Linked DNA regions of Homo sapiens: region 1 is linked to region 2. The links come from fine-mapping of genetic effects on gene expression. Tissue or cell type: prefrontal cortex. Region 2 holds a variant in brackets; the other region holds the start of a gene. All regions are shown on one strand. Distances are between the middles of the regions.

Evidence for each region. PIP is the estimated chance that this variant, and not a neighbour inherited with it, causes the effect.
Region 1: it holds the start of AGMO, and the variant in region 2 is fine-mapped to the expression of AGMO in prefrontal cortex (CommonMind, PIP 0.95).

Annotation. Positions count from the first base shown.
Region 1 is chr7:15,558,140-15,566,329 of GRCh38, forward strand. It overlaps AGMO (alkylglycerol monooxygenase), which reads right to left and starts at 3,876. Exons shown (of 13, transcript NM_001004320.2): 1 at 3,581-3,876; 2 at 2,002-2,132. The coding sequence starts at 3,706. It overlaps LOC124901591 (a long non-coding RNA gene), which reads left to right and starts at 718. Exons shown (of 3, transcript XR_007060217.1): 1 at 718-888; 2 at 1,042-1,174; 3 at 1,957-2,061.
Region 2 is chr7:15,371,734-15,379,923 of GRCh38, forward strand. The region is part of intron 10 of AGMO (alkylglycerol monooxygenase); the gene reads right to left. Among named protein-coding and RNA genes, the nearest start is that of AGMO, 190 kb to the right of the region's middle. The variant G/T (reference allele first, on the strand shown) is at 3,050.

The DNA of each region.
Region 1 (8,190 bases), 190 kb after region 2:
TGTATTGAGGATACAGTTTGTATTTCTGGTACTTACAATGTTATGATAAGAGAACAATCTAATTTCATTTGGAACAAAATCAAACTTTAAAAGGTAAAAAAAAAAATTCTGAAGAGTTCATTCAATTTGCTGTCAAATTCATTGTCAAAATGCTTAACAAATGCATTCCAATTCAGTAAAATATATGACCCATAATCGTATATACAGGGCAATTTTCAGTTATTGGGTGACGTTTATAGTTTATCAATAATCTGATTTCCATAACCTATACACTTAACTTTCTGAGAATGAGCTAAATTAACCAACTGGGTATTTTTAAATAACTAAATCTACATCTAAATCTATATACCCTTGGGCATGTTGAATGTTTTTCTTGTTCATTTCTGCTTAAAGGGGACAAGTATTATAATAAAGGAAATTATCTATAATTGTAAATTCTTATTCATGATAATCTGGGAATTAGCTGCAAATTTCTGGAGACATTATCTTCTTCTGATTTCAACTGCAAAATGCAACAATTACAAGTAGTTTTTCAGAGTAAATATTATTAATATTACTTCTACTATATACCTAATAATGCACTTTTCTCAAACACTTATTGAAAAAATTTTACTTTTAAGTTTACTTTTATTTAAACTATTTTATGTAATATATGAAATTATTCCACCTTTTTTAGATATTTAAAGTTTTAATGTTATTTTTTAAAAATCCACCTTAGCTTCCCACTGGGCGGTTAATAGAAACATTCCAAAGCAATGAGCACCAGTCAGAAGTAAAGCTCTTAAAACAGGACAAGAAGAAATGGGTGGGAAGCTGGAATGAGAACATTCATCAGCAGCTCAAAGCACAGACTTCTAAGGGAATCTTTCCTCACCCTCTGCCTCTTTGGTAAGCCCTCACGTGTTGAAGATGACTTCCATTTATTGGTCTTTCCTCTTCACACATTATAATGTACTCTTTCTAAAAAATAGTAGGTCATTTATATCTTACTATTATTGAGTCCCAATATCATCTAATTTTATCATCAACATAATGTTACAGGAATATTACTGCTTTTGGGGAAACTACATGCAACAGACATCATTCCAGGCACAGGAGCTAAAACTATTAAGAACATACACCTCTTGCTCTCAAGTTGTGTGCAAGCTAGCAGGAAGGGCTGAGAGAAAAACAGGTAAGCATCATGTCATGTGATAATTCTAGATCTGGGATAAGCACACAATTCCATGGGACTGTAGTGTAGGAATGCAGGAATGCCTAACATAAGGTTGGAAAACAGATAAAGCTTGCTGAAGAGTGTGATGTCTATGCTTAGACCTAATGAATGAATCTGAATTGGCCTGGATGGCTTTCCAGGCAGAGGGAAGTGCCTGTGGCATGTGGACAATGGCAAGTAGTAAAGCATGACAGGATAAACATGACAAATAGACAGGAGAGTGGACGATCCAAAAGCAAAGCCAGAGAAACAATGTTCTCTATAGTTCAAGACAGGGATTTTTACCTTACACTTGAGGCAATAGAGAGCCAGTGAAGGGTTTCCACTGGATTCATATTATGGAAATGCTTGGCTGCAAACGGGGTTGTACTAGAGCCAGACACCAATTAGCAAACTATTGTAGTTATTCAGAGATTTGTGTGACCTGCTCTAGGGAATGGCTACACCCGAGACAGCTATTCTTTCTGAAGCTGGAAGAGACAAAACACAATTTTAATAGAGAACCAGACCATAACTCAGAGTTGGAACCTCAATAAGGCAAATGAAGCACTCATTTCAAAGGGATATCAACAGAGTCAAGATAAATAATGTTTGCGGTGATTTTTTAAATAAGTGCAAAAAATCAATGAAGAACAAAATATCAAAATTTTAAATAATGACATGAACTGAATTTTTTGGGAAAATTTGTGTAAATAAACTAATTCTCCCATGCATTGGGTTCCTTTGCCCCTCATACTTAGGCAATTTCAGTTTTTATGCTCAGCGTTGTTGACCATCTAACTCACCTTGGAAGTCGAGACAGAACACCAGCTGAGATTGACGTTAAAGCATCATCCAGGCGACCTGGTGGCTTTCCTTTGAGAATCCAGCTGACAACAAGTTCAAGCAGCATCAAAGAAATGAAAAATGGAGTTGCCTGGAAAGGAAGTTGCAGAAAAGAGATGCTATTATGTTCCATATGAAATTATTTTACATTTCCTGATTAGTCATTTCAGAATTGAAAGGCCCAGATTTGGGAAGCCCTGCAGGAGATGGTAGACACTCATTTTAGAGGATTACTTCCTACACAGTGGTAAAGAAGTCTAATTATTTTAGACATACACTAAACATGTGCTCAAATTCTATCATCCAATTTGAATATGAAATGTAATCATAGATATAACCACGATAATTATAATATTATAAGATTAAGAGGAACATCTTCCAAATTAGTTTAAAAAATACATTTAGAATAAGGTAGATAATTAGAGGTCTATTGTCTCTACATGTATAATTTAGACCCACTTCAAGAGGCTTTCCTTAAAGATGCACATAATTCTAATTTTTCATATTAGACTTACCAGAACTATTTCTAATGATGAAATTCAAAGAGTAGAGACAATTTTCTGCTTAGAATTTTAGAGAATATGGTAATTTTACATGTTTGCTTAAAACATGATTCAGATTTTATTCATTTGGTTTTGATTTTTGTTTCACATAATAAGAGATGTTTTGAAAGCTCCACTATTGGTGATGGAGCATTGAATTTGGTTTGATATTGCAGTATAAACAATAATAATTTATGAAGATATCAGTGCCACTTTTTTTAACTTAAAAACTCAGAAAGAAAGTGTAATATCTAATCTTGAAAAAGATACGGATTTTACTCATTTGGAAGCTAATCATGAGTTTTGAAGCTTTCTAAACTGAACTCTCAATAACATATTCTATGATGTCATTTTTTTTCTATTTCTGCCATGAACTAGTGAGTGTTGTAGGAATAACTTTGATAGGGTGGGGAACTTCAGTATTCAAGTTCTAATTCTGGATATTTCCACTTCCAATCATAGCCAGGAACCAGAAGTGAAATGTGCCTCTGAGCACTTCAGAGTTTCAAAGAAAACTTGGGTCAAATTCAAACTTAGGAAGTCAGAGCTGGACCTGGTCAAGCTGCATATCCTTCATTCTGCTGAACTACTCTACCAAATGAAAGAGGAAATAGTTTCCCTGGAAGGGGTGGACAAGTGAAAGATTTAAAAATGAAATTGTTACAAAGTTTACTGATGTGGTGTAACTATTTGTCATTGAGCTTCCAATAGCTACATTTACAATGCCATGGAGTCCAGGAAAACTTTAAACTTTTGTTTTTGTCATATTCTGGAGTGACATATAAAAGAGGGAATTTACAGGTGAAGATGGCTATGGATTGTAAGAAAATTCAAGTGGAAATTCTACTTTTGCTTCACGCCTTTAAGAAACTGAATTATTATTATTAGAATGTAATCATTTGAATAATGAAAGTGAACAAAACCCTAAGGAGATTGACCTTACCATTTATTAAGAAAGCAGCAAGAATAAGAGTAGCCTCTTCCAATAAAGTCTCACCTTTTTTACATAATCAGGCACCTCTTCTAATGTTTGGAATGAAGTTTCACTGGGTTTCATCGTGTAAAACAACATGCGAAATCCCTGGGAAACTGAAACATCCTGCTGGGCTTCTGGGTTCTTCATTTCTGCCCTTGTCTGATTCCCAGCTGGAGAATATTTAGGATTCAATGCTTGAAGCCTGAGGCTGAACAAAGAGGACGAGATGTGCAGCTCAGAACAAGCTCTTTGTCAGAGAACAGCTAAAACCAAAGCTCCACTGAGAGCACACTCAACAGCCGATTCTGTGTAGAGAGACAGGAAAATACAAGGATCAAGAACAAGTACAGAGTTCAGTGGGCGCTGGGCCAGAAACAGGGCATGTGGGGGAGGGAAAAGAGGACTCATACCCAAATCAAAGTCATACAGTGCAGTTTGACTGTAGGTGGAGCAAGTTACTACTTAAAAAAGAAGAGAAAAAACATCATAATAGTGTCTCGGAAAGAAAAAAGTGATAACGCAGGTATATGTTCACTCTGAAAAACTGGATAGAAATTCAAGCATCAAGTCACATAGAAAAACCTTTTTTTCTCCTCATTTAGAAATTTACAATGTGTTCAAGCTTGTAGTTTCTTTATTTCCTACAGAGACTGTGTATAGGCGAGCTACTTAATAATAGCTTGAAAGTCAGTAAGCACTGAATATCTGGCTCCTTATTGCCTATCTATATTTCTGTATCTGAATCATGTTATTACCACTTCTGAATGTTTGCAACCAGTTTAGGGGCATTTGGCTTATTACATAATCTACATTATTTAATGGAAAATTGGCTAGTCACATCTTCTCTATTCTTCTTAGTACTTATGGGAACTTTCTGATTAAAGAAGGTGCCAAGATGTTGCTGTGAGACCTGTTTCTGTTTTACAGAAAGAGCTTAAGTGATTGTACCTTTTAAGTAGATTAGAAGGCACTTAATTTATTACATTACCAGTGAATATGTGGAGCTTGCCAGAATAGCCTCAGCTCTTTACCCAAAACAGCTGTAATCATCCTTTAGCTGCCATTTCATCATTTAAAGATGTTTACATAGATCTAATTAAAGTATCAATGCACGATTGTTTTAGAAAAATATAGAAACTATAGATAAGCAATAATAAGCTGCCCAAAACGCTATTAACATTTTGGTACATGTATGGTCAGTTTTGCTATAATGTGATATATCCATTCCTAAAAATCACTATACTGTACAAAATTGTGCAATAAAAACCACGGGACTTGTGAGAAAAAATGTGATTAGGGTAAAATACTCAAAAACTTCATAATGACCCACAAGGAACAAGAAAAAAAGGATGAGAGCCTAATAAAAATGGTAGCACACTTTCACACGTTACATGGTTAAGATATACATAAATACTAAAATAAATATGATGCTTTACCTTGAAAAAGACCTGAAACTTGTTTTGGAAATTAGGCATTGGAAGATTTGCAAACTGCAAGTTACTTTAGCTTGTTGAAATGTGGGTTATCTGAAATCAGACAGAAAGTTGCAATATGACATATGGGTGTCAAGGCTCACAACACACAGGTGAAGTGAGGGTGTTACTATAAGTGGTGGGTGTATTTTGTGCATCCTAAGCCTTTCTGTTTTTCAGTTCAGTTTTTTAAAGTTCAACTACTCTTTTTCACTGAAAATAAAATCACACATGAGCATAGGCAGTATGCTCAAATTATTTTCTGGTATATTAATCACATTGGAACAAATTTAATCTCAAAGCACATGTTATAGCAGAATTGACTGTCCTTTCAGACCATTCCCATTACCAATAAGTACATATGGACATTAATTTTTAATAAAGGTGTCTGGGCGTGGTGGCTCACACCTGTAATCCCAGCCAGTACTTTGGGAGGCCGAGACGGGCTGATCACCTGAGGTCAGGTGTTTGAGATCAGCCTGGCCAACATGGCAAAACCCCGTGTCTACTAAAAATACAAAAATTAGCTGGGTGTGGTGATGGGCACCTGTAGTCCCAGCTATTCGGGAGGCTGAGGCAGGAGAATTGCTTGAACCCAAGAGGTGGAGGTTGCAGAGAGTGGAGATTTTGCCATTGCACTCCAGGCTGGGGGACAGAGCAAGACTCTGTCACAAAAACAAAAAAAAATTTAATAAAAATGATCATAGTAGGCATACTGTTTTATTACCTGCTTTCAAAACAATTTTGGAAATTAACAATGTGATACAAGAGAAAAAAATACAAACAATATAGCTGTATATAAAGTCAAAAGTGGCAGCATCCTTTCTTCTCAATATATGCACACCTTGCACTTCACTTCATAGGGATAACATATCCTCTTGGTGGGGTTTTTTTTTTTTTTTTTTTTTGCCATATCTGTTTTTTCCTAAAAGGGATAGTTATTATCATTATTACTATACAAATACGTTTCTATATACACATAATGGTTCGATTTTGCAATGGACCTTATCAAACATAAGATACAGCAAGTTCCTTCTTGGAGTCAATAACTTACCAGGAACATTTCTTTTTTAGTATATGATTATACAGGTACAGCCTTTTCTTCGTTGTTTTTACTGGCTGCAAAAGTGTGTGTGTGCATTTCAATGAGCAAAACAAAATTATTTCTAACTTTTTAAAGCAGAAGCAATTTTATACAAGAAAAAAGTTGTTACATAGATGATGGGAGAAGTAAAAAACCAAGCAGGAACAAAGAGGTAATCTAGAGATTAGTACCAATAGGAAGCCACTACCATTGTTAAATTGTAGGGACAAATGGAGAAGGTTGTATTAGTAGGGCCCAGGGGCTATGGTCATCTAGGAAAAGTTAGAACCACCATTGGCTTGTCTAGCAAGAGTATTTCCCATGGAGCAAAGCCAATCAAAGCCAGAAATAATACCCATGGCAGAGAGGGAAGAAAGGGAAGTACTATGGCTTCTCCCTTCTTCCTGCCCACCAGTCTCCCAACAGTACTTCCCATTAGGCTATGACATGGTTGGATTTGCGTCCTGGCCCAAATCTCATGTCAAATTGAAATCCCCAGTGTTGGAGGAGGGGCCTCGTGGGAGATGATTGGATCATGGGGGTAGATTGCCCTCTTGCTGTTCTCCTGATAGTGAGTGAGTTCTCAAGAGATTGGTTGTTTAAAAGTGTGTAGCACCTCCCTCTTCTGTCTCGTCCTCCTGCTCTGGTCATGTAAGGCACACCTGTTTCCCCTTCTGCAGTGATTGAAAGTTACTTGAGGCCTCCCTAGCAATTATTCCTGTACAGCCTGCAGAACTATGAGGCAACTAAAACTCTTTTCTTTACAGATTACTCAATCTCAGATTGTTCTTTACAGCAGTGTGAGAATAGACTAATACAAGCTAAATGAGTCAAAAGCCAGTTGACAGAAAAAGCTAGAAAAAGAAGCCTGCTGAAGGTAACCTCTTACTACACACAGTGCTGAAGGAGAAAGGGAGGGAAGAATCAATCTATGGAAAAAGTCAACCAAGAACCAGCACACCATCATAACTTATTTAATTACTCCTCTATTGTTGTGTGTGTAAACGCAGTCTTCCATTTTTAACTAATAAATTTAATGCAACAATAAACATCATGGTATAAATATTTATACATTTTGCACATTTTTTGTTACATAGATTCCTAGCAGCGGAATTATGCTATGAAGATGATGTAAAATTTACCCTTTGATAATTACTGCCGAATTCCCCTTTCAGATTGCCTTCCCCTCCACACTCTTGCTAACACTGGCTATTATTAATCTTTCATAATTTTTAGCCAATTAGTTAATGAAAAAATGGTATCTTGTTTTAATTTGCATCTCACTAATGACACTGAACATCTTTCAGTACATTTATTAATGTTTTTTTGCTTCTTAATCTGAAATTTATTTTTTAATATGAGCTGCACATTATTTTATTTCATTGTCATTATTGGTTTATAGGCCATTTGTATTATAAATATATAATTCTATGTACAGTATATATATTCTGATATATGTGACAAGTATTTTCTCATTTCATATTCACTAGTTATCTATATGTTGTCATACTGCAATTGTAACTTTGTGTGTGCTGTTATCCTTTGTTACCTCTGCTTTTGGATCTTGCTTATGAACATTTCCCTTGCCAGAATTCCGTAAGAATAATCTTCTGATTTTTTTTTTTTGGAGCATTTAAAAGATTTCTGTTGTTTCAATTATCTGGAATTTAGTTTTCCATATGGTATGTAGTAATTATTTGACTTTTTACCTTGCCTTTATGGATCACAGTTCTTGCCACACCATTAGTCAGTCAATACTTTCCCCACTATTCTATGTACCTGTACTATTTCCAGGCTCTTCATTCAGCTCTATGGATGTTTTTATCTACTCTTATGCTAGTACCATGTTGTCTTCATTATTGTACTGTCATAATAAATTCTGGTAACTTGTAGAACAATTTATCATGCTTGAATTTTATTACTCAAAAATATGAAGCTGTTTTTACACATTTGCTTGTGTAAATGTTTAGACTAAACTTCAAAGCATCCTGTTGGCATTTTAATTGGAACTACATTAAATTCATGGATTAATATGGAAAGAATTGACATCGGAGACACTCAATAAATTTGTTTTG
Region 2 (8,190 bases):
GTTTTCACCACATTGTCCAGGCTGGTCTCAAACTCCTGGACTCAAGTCTGGCCTCAGCCTCCCAATGTACTGGGATTTATAGGCATGAGCCACCACACCTCATCTAATACCAATATTTTATATTCCTCAAACTTTAAAATAAATTCAACTAAATTATTCAATCAATAGTTTAATATTAAATTATTAAGTGTTTCTAAATATTAAATATTTAAATATTAAGTACCTTAATATTTATCCCTTTAATTCCTTAAAAAACAGAATATCCCAAAAATGAGTTTAAAAGAAACTGAGAATATTGAAGAGGGAATTCAACATAGAACACATATGCTTAATTTAGGGTTCATTTTCCTATGGAACTTAAGTTTTTCTATATAGTATCCTTTGATAGACTACTAAGGGAGATAATCAGTTGAACGTCTCTAAAGTCTAACATGCGGCTGGGTGTGGTGGCTCATGCGTGTAATCCCAGCACTTTACGACGCTGAGGTGAGCGGATCACTTGAGGTCAGGAGTTCAGGACCAGTCTGGCCAACACGGTGAAATCCCGTCTCTACTAAAAATACAAAAATTAGCCAGGCATGGTGGCACACACCTGTAGTCCCAGCTACTTGGGCAGCTGAGGCAGGAGTAAACTACTGTTTGAACCTGGGAAGCAGAGGTTGCAGTGAGGCAAGATCATGCCATTGCACTCCAGCCTGTGCGTCACAGCGAGACTCTGTCTCAAAAATAAATAAATAAATAAATTCTACAAATTCATTCCATGAATATATATTGAATATGTGCTGGGCACTATGGTAAATATGAGTTTGAGTAACCAAGAACAACAAAATCCCTGCCCTTGAATTCATACCACCTTAGTATTTGCCCGTAAGACCACTGGCCAACTACACTAGAGCAAAAGAAAAAAAAATAGAATTTATAGGTTTTGAAGACTATAAATATTTAGTCTCCTGTGTTTTAAACAATATGTGAAATCACACGTAGCTTATTAGTTTTTTATAACAGGGAGGATTTTATTTTTTCATTTAATTTACTCCCATTTCAAATTATATACTGCTGGTTTATCTTTCATATAAAGTATCTCTGTCCTAAAGTGCTAAATTGAAATTATTCTAAATTAGTTCCATTTTAATTTGGACGTATGATCGGTTCTTAATCACAGAAAGCATTTGGGAAAGATCATAACCATAAATAGCTTTATGAGGCAATAAATTATTTTTCCTTTTTAAAAATTATCTGTCAAGTTTCACTACTGTGTGGTGGCTCATGCCTATAATCCCAGCACTTTGGGAAGCTGAGGTCGGCAATTCACTTGAGGCCAGGAGTTCGAGACCAGCCTGGCCAACATGGCAAAACCCCATCTCTACTAAAAACACAAAAATAATACAAAAATTATCTGGGCATGGTGGCGGTACTTGCCTTTAATTCCAGCTACTTGGGAGGTTAAGGCACAAGAACTGATTGAAACTGGGAGGAGGTGGTTTCAGTGAGCTGAGATGGCACCACAGCACTCCAGCCTGGACAACAGAGTGATATTCTGTCTCAAAAAAAAAAAAAATTATTTGGTAGCTCGTTTTCATAGGTTTCCCAGTGCAAGGATGATGGTTTACATTTGCAGCCCCAATTACGCCTGCAGAACCCTATCTACTCCAACTTTCTTTAAATAGATGGGAAAAAAATACTTAGGAAAAGGTATCATTAACAACACAAAAACAGCAGAATTACATGTTTGACGCCATGTTACTTAATCAATGAATGTGTGGGAATTCTTCTTTTGCCCACAGATATTATAAAGAAGAAAGCCCTTTTCTTCTTGAAGAGGACTATCACTGTCTTACTCTTGCATGGGAAAACCTTAGGGGTCAATACAACCTCCTCTCACATTTCTCCACCAAACAAACCTCACAAAGGAGGTATCAAACTCAGTCACTACATCCTAAAATAACAGTATGTTTCCATATGAAAAAATTCTTTTTTTAAACTTTATGCATTGTCAAAGATGATTTGATAATATTTTCCATAATTTTATTCTAAGGCTTTAGAAATGAAAATCTCTAGATTTTCTTATTAAAACAAGTTGGTACGTTTTTAGTAGTTTCTCTAAAAGGTGCCTGACAAGGTCTACAAAAGTTATTATTTTGATTAATGCTCATCTTCTCAGACATCTGTAAAATGAGGCTAATATTGCCTAACACTGAAACCTCTACAATCTCTGCTGTGAAGGCAGCAGATTGGCTTTCTTGGCATACTTATCCCTGCTGCCATTATTAATATCTCTGCAGCTCTGAGGGCCCCAATCTTCCAGACACTGTGAGCTTGCGGATTTGTTATGCTGAATCCGAAGGCTTGAAGATGCTTCTCAGTGTTACAACATAAACACAAGAGCAGAATCCAATGTGACACCATACTGCAATGTATAATTATATGTGAGTCTCAAGAATCTGTCTTGAAAGAATTTCTTGCTCTTTAAAATAATTGTCAATATTGGCTATCTTATTCTTTTCCCTACTTTTTCAGAACTCCCTAGGTGGCTACCACTAAAGCATACTAAGAGGAATATAATTACAGTAAACATTTGCTAGAATTTCAAGCAAGAAGCAAACATAATAAATATATCAAAGGTGAAAATATATTGGCTAAAAAAGTATAATTAACATATAGTTCAAAACATTGAATTGACATGGAGTTCATCAGTTTCTACAAAAAATTGTAAGAAATAAAAGCCAAAGATTACATTGTATTTTATAAATACCAAAATATTAGATATGTAACAATTATATTTGACACTATGGTTCTACTCCATTAAAATATGAATGTGTACCTGATAAGATAGAGAACTTCACCCTCCTACCTGGAAAAACAAACAATAGCAATATATCTGAAATGATTGTTTTCAAATCACAGGGCACAAGGCAAAAAAGAACAGCGATCTCAGGGAAATAGGATACAAATGACATGATCCATATTGCACCAGTTTCCCACCTTGAGAGTTTCTAGGTTACAATACAGAGGGACCCAGAGGAGCTTGGTGGATTCCCTGAATTGTGGA[G/T]AAAGAGCCAGGATTTGAGAGAAACCAAGAAGGCTAGCATTTGGAAAATAGAGTACCAAAAAAGGAAGAGTTATGCATAGAGAACCCTAAAAATTTGCAGAGTGTCGGTCAAGTCTTTAGCAAGTCAGCTCATGCGTGATACCCTGAAGAAATTATCCAAGGGCAAAAAAGGATCAGAGTTACAATGCCCAGTATGTGTGTAATGCATACTCCTACCAGACAGACTGGAAAATCTCATGATTCACTGGACATTCACTAAGTAGAGAACACCAAAGGGTTGTGCCTCAGTATTGGGTAGTAATTGGTCCAAGACTGAAAACCTCTAGAAAAGAAAGATCCTACAACAGTTGCCAAAAGAGTCTGTTGTTAACATATTATCTTTTTTGAATGCTCCATAAAACTATTTTGTGGGAGCCACTCTGAATAATCTGTATTTGCCTCAAGATCAAATTTCCTTGCACTTTTAATAGGAAACTTTTATTTTCTTACTAAGAAACAAGTGGATCTACAAACTAAATACCTTTTCATTATTTTCCAAAATACAGAAGAGAAAAGATGTTAAAAGACTGTTTCAGAGACAGATCAGACTTTCTTTCTAAAAGGATTTTTTTTTTTTTTTTTTTTTTTTTTTGAGACAGAGTCTTGCTCTGTTGCCTAGGCTGGAGTGCAGTAGCACAATCTTGGCTTCTGCACAACCTCTAACTCCTGGGTTCAAGTGATTCTCTTGCCTCAGCCTCCAGAGTAGCTGGGATTACAGACACCTGCCACCGCACCCAGCTAATTTTTGTATTTTTAGCAGAGGCGGAGGTTCTCCACCTTGGCCAGACAGGTCTCAAACTCCTGACCTCAAGTGATCCACCCACCTCGGCCTCCTAAAGTGCTGGATTACAGGCGTAAGCCACTGTGCCCAGCCTCTTCACGTGGAATACTTTTAATGAGGAAATGTAACTCCAAAGAACTGCGCATTTAGACTTGGGAGTTTCCAAAACAGAATTAAATTGCTTAATTTTTACATACACTTAACAAATCTAAGTGAGGTTATGATTTAAATTATGAGGAGGTTATCATTGTGTTTGTTATGTAACTTTTTAAAGAAGCTGCCTGATCCTCACCAAATTAGAAAACACTTATAGTGATATGAAGATATATTTAATTTCAAAGTTAACATTCTATTATTTGATGCATATACTATTAAATGTGTAATTTCCCAGTTTATCAATGTATTTAAATGTAGTGGACAAAAAATAATGTATTTAGGAAAATACAATGATCACTTTTCTACATTTCTGTAGTCTATGCTTACTTGAAAGGTAGCTTTTGTTAATAGTCTTCCGTTACTACAAATCCATTACATTCATTTCATGCCTTTGTATTATAATTGATGCTCATTTTGGCCCACATTCCTTTTTTTTCCCCCACATTACGTAACTTAGTTACCACCGAAAATCTTAAGGAAATGAAATCCCAAGGGGATAGACTAGAGAAAAACAGTATACCCTGGACATTGACTTGAAAACTTTCATGAAGAACCTAAGCTAGATCTAATTTGTGCAGGTGGCACTCTCTGCTGTAAGAGTCGACCAAAATATATTGATTTTTTTACAGGTTTTTTTCAGCAGCTTTATTAAAAAACGCCAACATGAAAATATTAGTTACAAAATTGTAGTGCCCATAATGTTTTACAGAGTATGGCATTCAGGGGAATTAAAAACCATAAAAATGTTTCCAAATTTATATTGGATACTCTCAGATGCCCTGTAACTTGAAATATATCATCAAAGTAATCTGTGTTCAAATGTATCTGCAGTAACTTTATTACATATCCTATTATAAGACCTTATTGAATATTCAAACTGTTTTTTGTGTGTTTATTAGTTAAAAGAAGCATTGCCTTTTCAATTTTAGTTTGTAGAACATGCTAGTGCAATACATATTATACATATTTTTATTTCCAACATGTACTCATGATATCACCCCAGGAAGTGGACACTGGCAGCTGAGGAATTGATTTTTCAAGGATTACTAAACCAAAATCAACATAAAAGTCCGTGGGTCATATCACTAAACTAAACACTATATATTTAAATATATGCTTTGCAAGTTTCAGTAAGAAAGGAATGTGTCTCTTACACCTTTGTCGTGGCCATCAAATTGCTCTCTTGACTCCCAAAGTTATTTATATAGAACTTGCATACATAAAACAAGTAAGTATTTATCTTCTCTAATATATGCATAAACAGAAAAGACTGTGGGACCACAGCAGGGTCCCCAATTACAAGTCAGCCACAACTTTTCTGTGTGATTATTGGCTACAGTGAATCTGGAAAAAAATATTGCTGTTGGATTTTAATGTCTTTGTATGCTTTTAGACATCCCTGAGATTAGAAAGGCACTATAGAATTTTGCAAATAAACAACCTTTCTTCCTAGTCACACAGCATGTTCTCAGCAAAGAAAAACACATGTGGGAAACAAGCAAATACAACTTTCAAAATTAATTTGTGTCAGGAATGAAGCTGTCTCCAACTCTACTTTCAGTTTGTAAAGGGTTTCAACACTTGATATTTCTCTTCGTCAATATATCTACATGAGTTTCTCATATATTTTTTCATGACAGTAGAGAAATCTTGAGAAAACCATGCTGTAAGTCACATATTTTAATGTACACAGTGTCTGGCTACATTTTTACCCAGGAAGCACTCACTCATGCCCAGGCATTCAAATGTTAATGGCCACTATTTCAAATTTAACATGGAGGCTCACATAGCTTAAAATGAGTAAGTCTCCATCTTTTGTTTCTATGAATCAGTATAATTTATTTAGAGATTTTATTTAATACAACTAAGAAAAATCAACAATGCGAACTGTACTCAACATTGGTTAGTATATCAACAGTTGGATATTTAGACACAGATGACCCTGGCTTTTCTTTTGGTCTCATTCAACTATTTAAGCTCTATTAATGATGTAGATTTTAGTTCTACTTGGGGAGAACATATTAAGTTAATATATTAAACAAAGTAGTTAAGTGAGGGGTTATGAGACCTTACTTAAACAAATATGAAGTCTAAGCATTTTGGTGGTTTGATGTTTAGGTGTGCACTGCCAAGCGTAATGTGGTTCATGCCACAGTTATAAAAGCTTTGGTCCAAAAAGAAATTCTTGGTTTCAAATTTTGTCATTTTGGGGGCTAAAGCCAAATAAACCTGGTACACTATGCAATTTGTTTCATCATTAGCTCTAGCACAGGTAAGAAAAACAAACAGTAACTATATGTCCAATCATTACATTTTCAAAAAACTTCTGGCCCCATAGTATCCTAGTTCCTGCATTTGCTTCACAAAATGGAAACAAGAATCTAACTCATTGTTTTCTGCTACAGTAATACAAGTCGATTTCATGTTTCCCTGTGGCTTTTTATTTTAAAAAATTATATTTGGACAGACAGCACATACAAACTTATCTATTGTTTAAAATTTGGGTTCCTATATGAAGAATAATTTGGTTACTAACTTTGAACACACGCACAAAATAAATATATATGGACAACACCAATCATTAAAGTTTTAAAATAATGTTAAAATTAAAATGGTTTTTGTTGGTTTAATGTCTGTTTTGTCAGAAACTTGGGATTGCATCCCATCCTTCTGTTTTCCAATTGCTTGGTAGTGTTTTCTCCGTCCCTTTATGGGATCAAATCAACAAGGATTCCTAACTATCCTAAATATGTATGCACCCAACACAGGAGCACCCAGATTTATTAAGCAAGTTCTTAGAGATCTTCAAAGAGATTTAGACTCCCACACAATAATAGTGGGAGACTTTACTACCCCACTGACAATATTAGATCATCCAGACAGAGAATTAACAAAGATATGCAGCACCTGAACTCAGCACTAGACCAAATGGACCTGATAGATACAGTCAGAACTCTCCACCCAGAGTTCTGGGTGGCAAAATTCTATAGTGCCTTTCTAATCTCAGTGATGTCTAAAAGCATACAAAGACATTAAAATCCAACAGAATTTACATTCTTCTCATCGCTACATGACACATAATCTAAAATCAATCACAAAAATGAAAGTAAAACACTACTCAGCAAATGCAAAAGAACTGAAATCATAACCCACATTCTTTCAGACCACAGCACAATTAGAAATTAAGACTAAGAAATTCACTCAAAACCATACAATTACATGGAAACTGAATAACCTGCTCCTGAATCACTTTTCGGTAAATGATGAAATTAAGGCAAAAGTTTCAAAGAAGTTCTTTGAAACTAATGAGAACAAAGACACAACACACAACATACCAGAATCTCTAGGACACAGCTAAGGCAGTGTTAAGAGAGAAATTTATAGCACTAGAAGTCCACATCAAGAAGTCAGAAACATCTCAAGTTCACAACCTAGTATCACGACTAAATAACTAGAGAAATCAAGAGCAAAGAAATCCCAAAGCTATCACAAGACAATAACCAAAATCACAGCTGAAGCAAAGGAGATTGAGACATGAAAAACCATTGGAAAGATCAACAAATCCAGGAGCTGTTTTGGGGAAAACATTAATCAAGTAGAAAAACTGTTAATTAGATTGATAAAGAAGAAACAGAAGATTCAAATAAACAGTATCAAAAACAAGGAGGTTATTATCAATGACCCCACAGAAGTACAAACAACAATCAGAAAATATTATGAACACTTACATGCACATACACTAGAAAATCTAGACGAATTTCCTGGATACATACACCCTCCTAAGACTGAACCAGGAAGATATTAAAACCCTAAAGAGAACAATAGTGAGCTCTAAAATTGAGGCAGTAACAAATAACCTACCAATCAACAAAAGCCCAGCACCAGACAGATTCACAGCTGAATTCTACCAGAGGTACAAAGAAGAGCTGGTACCATTTCTACTGAAACTATTCCAAAAACTTCAGGCCAATATCCTTGACTGACAGTAATGCAAAAATTCTCAATAAAATACTGGCAAACCAAATCTAGCATCACATCAAAAAGCTTATCCACCATGATTAAATGGGCTTTATCCCTGGGTGCAAGGTTGGTTCAACATACACAAATCAGTCAATGTGATTCATTACGTTAACAGAACTAAAGACAGAAAGCATATGATTATCCC